Regions from separate parts of the Homo sapiens genome. Here region 1 is linked to region 2. The links come from fine-mapping of genetic effects on gene expression. A gene starts in region 2. The other region holds a variant in brackets. All regions are shown on one strand. Distances are between the middles of the regions.

What was found.
Region 1: its variant is fine-mapped to the expression of NIPSNAP1 in whole blood (TOPMed, PIP above 0.99).

What each region holds. Positions count from the first base shown.
Region 1 is chr22:29,431,900-29,434,921 of GRCh38, reverse strand. It overlaps a transcript of RFPL1 not described here and the pseudogene RFPL4AP6. Among named protein-coding and RNA genes, the nearest start is that of RFPL1, 5.2 kb to the left of the region's middle. The variant G/C (reference allele first, on the strand shown) is at 1,299.
Region 2 is chr22:29,580,090-29,582,589 of GRCh38, reverse strand. NIPSNAP1 (nipsnap homolog 1) reads left to right here and starts at 1,477. Exons shown (of 10, transcript NM_003634.4): 1 at 1,477-1,605. The coding sequence starts at 1,508. RefSeq lists a silencer at 1,671-1,720 and an enhancer at 1,704-2,316.

The DNA.
Region 1 (3,022 bases), 150 kb after region 2:
TTGAATCTGCAAGAGCATAAAATGGGCACAGTGGCTCTGCAGCAGAAATCTTAGTGAATGTAAAGATATGAGTCCCATCATTAATGTTATAAAAGGAAATCATTGTCATACCCATATCCAGGAAAATGCCTACCCTGCATAGCCCCGGACTCACCCAGAGGGTGGTTAAAGGCACAGTGCTGGCTGCAAAGAGCTTTTCTTTCCTCATACCCACAGTCCAGAAGCCAAGTTCTGAAGACCACACAATTCTCTTGTCGATTAACAGATTCTTTGCAGGCACCCAAATCCCATTATTTGCCTGTCCCCATGTCTACCTCCCAGTAATGGTGTCCAGAGGTGAAGCGAGGGGAGCCCAGGACACAGATGACTTGTTTGAATCTCGGCATACTCTGTGCGGTTCTAAGAAATCCACAATGGACACTCCACAGGTCTTCAGAAATGATGAGTCGATTGTTGGCTGTGTCAATATCTGACGTCATATCCACTGTGGAAAGAAAAAAGGTAAATCAGCAAATAGAAACTTCCCTGCATTCCCTGATTCCGTAGAATTTCTTAGAGAAGATTGAAATAGAATTGTAACAAATCCCTCTTGTTCATAGTAAGCATTCTTTTTACATTTTGATTATTCAAGATTTCTTGAGATCCATGAAGGCAGAAACCATGTCTGTTGTTTACTCTCAAAATCATAAAATTTAGCAGACTCTGTTCAAATATAGATATCTAATGAATATCTAGATGATGGAAAAACTATTTATTATACTATTAGATCAGGCTGTGTACGGCGGCTTATGTCAGTAATACCAGCAATTTGGGAGATTGAGGTGGGAGGATCGCTTGAGCTGAGGAATTTGAGACCAATCTGGGCAACATGAAACCACATCTCAAAAAAATTTGTGTGTATGTGTGTGTGTGTGTGTGTGAGTGTGTGTCAGAAATCCAGATTCTCAACCAGCCTAGTCCAATAGAAGGAGAATTTGCATTTTATAAAAGATCTCCAGGTAATTTTAAATTTTTCTGTAGACATTAAAAAAAATTCAACAATACTTTAAATAACATATTATAAGCTTGTATATCCAGAATTATTGTCACTTCCACATGGGGTACACCCATGTTTCAAGGGCCCCATAGCCACTGGTGGCTACCATATTGGGCAGCACAGGTCTAGGGTATGACTTAAATGTTATATTTTCTTCAAAATCTTCTGTTGTCTCTAATCTATACTCACAGCTGAGAACTGTTGTTGGGTGGGCATACACATTTTAGGTGCCAGAATTCAGCTAATGCCCCTATTTAATGGA[G/C]AGCCTTTTGAACAGTTGCTTTTTCCAAGGCTGTTGGTGGGCCGAGCGCAGGTTATACAGATTTCTGACCTTGAAACTTCCGCATCCTTGGGTTTTAATATAGAATTCTTCTCAGCTGGGGCTCCACTTCCTTGATTTTGGAAACCAGTTTTCCCAGCAGGAGATGGGGCGTGATGTCTTTTATAGTGACCACAGAGCAGATGGCGCACAATACATCATCCCCATTGGGCTCCTTTGGAAATGAACTGATACAGCGGAAGCAGCAGAGATATCCACACTCTAGGTATGTGGGTTTTTATTATTTTCTTTTTTCTTTTCCTTTTTTTTTTTTTTGAGACGGAGTCTTGCTCTGCTGCCCAGGCTGGAGTGCTGTGGTGCCATCTTGGCTCACTGCAGCCTTTGCCCCTGGGTTCAAGTGATTCTCCTGCCTCAGCCTCATGAGTAGCTGGGATTACAGGCACTGCCACAGCACCCGGCTAATTTTTGTATTTTTAGAAGAGACGGGGTTTCACCATCTTGGCCATGCTGGTCTTTAACTCCTGACCTCGAGATCCACCCACCTCAGACTCCCAAAGTGCTGGGATTACAGGCGTGAGCCAATGTGCCTGGCTAGTAAGTGGGTTTTTCAGGATAAGATAGGCAGCCGACACATCGACTTGCTTCTTTAAAATGTTCTGCCATGGCCAATGTCTGCAGAAACGGTACATGATATTGGAGTTCAATTAACTGAATGACAATACTCCTTTAGGCTCTTTCACTTTTACATGCATAGAGACATATCAGTGCCTGCTATAAACAATCACTAGTGATAGGTGATAAAAACACTATAAAATACATATAAGAAGAGTCATGGCCTTGAACTTCTAATATCGGAAATGCTAGTTGGAATGAAGGACATGATTCTTCAGTTGAGAAGCTGGTGTTGTGAAGGGTCTAGGCCCAGCGGTCCAGCCACATGTGGTTCTTGAGCACCCCAAATGGGGCTTATTGGAATTGGGATGTGCCTTTGTTGTAACCAAGCGAGTTATAGAGAAACGCCACACTTTGAGACTAATTCAGGAGTCCTTTATTAGCCGGCGACCGAGAGACGCTAACGCTCGGAATTCTCTCGGCCCTGAAGAAGGGGCTAGATTTTCTTTTATACTTTGGTTTAGAAAGGGGAGGGGGAATTGAGCTGAAGCAATCTTACAGAAGTAAAACAGGCAAAAAAGTTGAAAAGACAAATGGTTACAGGAAAACAAACAGTTCCAGGTGCAGGGGCTTTAAATTCATCACAGGGTGATAGGAGGGGGGCTCCAGACACAAATGCAGGGGGCTTTAGAGTACTGTCACCTGAGCAAATTCCTGGGAACTGTGGACATAGTTTGCCACAGTATCTTATCAGTTAATTGCACTCTTTGACGCGCTGAGAGTCAGCTTGCACAAGTTAAGTCCTTGAGGGAGGGAGTGGGTAAGGAGCCCTTAATGTCTTGCAAATGAAGGAGCCGAATGGAATCCATCCAGCTTTCTTAGCTAAGAGAGAGTCAATCAAGTTAATGTAAGTTAGCGTATCACACCTTCAGTGTAAAATGCGCACTGGATTTTGAAGAGGTATGAGAAAAAGAGAATGTAAGTTATCTTATTAAGAACTTTGGCCAGGTGTGGTGGTTCATGCCTGTAATCCCAGCACTTTGGGAGGCCGAGGTGGGTAGATCACGAGGTCAGGAGTTCAAGACCAGCCTGAC
Region 2 (2,500 bases):
TTGTTTGTTTTTTGAGACGGAGTTTCGCTCTTGTTGCCCAGGCTGGAGTGCAGTGGCGCGATCTCGGCTCACTGCAACCTCTGCCTCCAGGGTTCAAGAGATTCTCCTGCCTCAGCCTCCCGAGTAACTGGGATTACAGGTGCCCGCCACCATGCCTGGCTAATTTTTTTGTATTTTTAGTAGAGACGGGGTTTCACCCTGTTGGCCAGGCTGGTCTTGAACTCTTGACCTAAACTTCTGATCCACCTTTGCCTCCCAAAATGCTGGGATTACAGGCATGAGCCACCATGCCCGGCAGCAAATTTATAGTTCAACTTTGAAACAAAGATAACAGCCCTCTCCCAAAATAAACCCCTTTCTTGCCTGGGGACCAGACTGCTTTTGTAAGACTAACAAATTAGCCACGAGATTAGAAATTACGGTTTAGGAGTCATGCAGGTAGTGGCCACAGATTCTAAACCTCCCCAGTTGCTCCTAGGGATAACATCACTACTGTAAAACCTAAGATTGGTGCTCAAGATATTTTTCCGATCCTGCACTCAATGGATCCGCTGGCGATACACAGATTAAGAAACCGGATCATCCGGTTTTGTGGCCCCCACCCAGAGATCCACTCAGCACAAGAGGACGGCTTCCACTCCCTATGATTGCATCTCCGACCTGACCAATCAGCACTCTCCACTCTCTGGCCCCTACCCACCAAATTATCCTTAATAAAACCCAGTCTCCGAATTTTCAGGGAGACTGATTTGAGTAATAATAAAACTCCGGTCTCCCATTCAGCCGGCTCTGCATGAATTAAACTCTTATTGCAATTCCTCTGTCTTGATAAATCCGCTGTCTGGGAAACGGGCAAAATGAACCCATGGGGTGGTTACACTGACCCTCTGCTGCACATCCCGGACAGCCTTGTTAAGAACCCTTGGTAGGCTGGGCATGGTGGCTCACGCCTGTAATCCCAGCACTTTGGGAGCACGAGGCAGGCAGATCACGAGGTCAGGAGATCGAGACCATCCTGGCTAACACGGTGAAACCCCGTTTCTACTAAAAATACAAAAAATTAGCTGGGCGTGGTGGCAGACGCCTGTAGTTCCAGCTACTCGGGAGGCTGAGGCAGGAGAATGGCGTGAACCCAGGAGGCGGAGCTTGCAGTGGGCCGAGATCGCGCCACTGCGCTCCAGCCTGGGCGACAGAGCGAGACTCCGTCTCAAAAAAAAAAAAAAAAAAAAAAAGAACCCTTGGTATTATTGTTCCACGCTCCCATTTTACCGAGGTGGATCCTGAGGCCCAGAGTGGGCAAAGGGCTTGCCAAGGTCGCAGAGCGCGCAGAGGATTAGAACCCTGACTTCCGTCCAGCACCTGCGGAGTTGGAGACGCCCACAGGAAACGCCCACCTGACCGGGTGAGTGAGGGGGCGGGCGAGCCGGAGGGGTGGAGTTTATTCGCGCCCCGCCTCCGCCACCAGGGCTTGGGGGCGGGGCCTTCCTGCAACCTTTGCGGCTCCAACATGGCTCCGCGGCTGTGCAGCATCTCTGTGACGGCGCGGCGGCTGCTGGGGGGCCCGGGGCCTCGCGCTGGGGACGTTGCGTCTGCAGCTGCGGCGCGGTGAGAGCCCGGCCAGGCAGGGATAGACGCGCGCGGGGTGGGGTGCAGGCGCGGGGGCCAGGGACTGGGTCGTGGGGGAGGGGCTGAGACTCCTCGCTTGGAATCTGGGGGTTAGAGGCGGGGCAGGATCAAGGCCTAGGGAGGGGTCTGGGCAAAGAATGGGGGAGGTGAGAAAGGGATGGGTAGGGTCTTTGTCCTGGTTGGGACCGGGCTGTGATGGGGACCTGATGAAAGATGGTGAGAAGGGCAGGTACTGGGCCCTGGAGAGTGGGAGAGGGCAGAAGACAGGAGGAGTGGCCCATTCCCAGGCGTAGCTTGTGATTTAACACCCACTGGGGGCTTCTGGTAGTCAGCTCCTCCGTCGGGAAGTTCTGTGGGAAAGAGATGATGGCAGGGGAGCAGTGGGGGATCCCCAGGGGCCATGGCTGCACAGACCCTTTGTTCCTCCACCTCGAACTGTACAGGTGGGGAAACGGACCTGAGAGGGAATGGGAGTTGTCCAAGGTCACCCTCCCTGCTGTGCCGTGGCAGCACCAGGTCTGGGACCCAGGCCTGCCAATGCGCCATGCACTTTGCACCCAACTGGTGGCCTCCTGGGAGTGGGAGTCTGGCTGGGCCATGTGCTCTCAGCCTGGGCTTTTGTTTGGGCCCTGCTCTGGGCTGAGCTAGGGCTTGGCCTCCCTGACTGGCCCTGGGCAGCCCCTCACTCCTTGGTCCCCACAGCCCTGTACTTCCCCCATCTCTGCATATATGACCCTGCACAGTTATGACTTGGTGCTTGTCTGTCTCTCTCACTAGACCATGATCTCATTTTTCTCTGTTTCCCCAGCCTCCCACCCTCAGAGGGCTCAGGACTGTGTATGGTCAAGGAATATTTACCAAAGAAGTGAGGCCA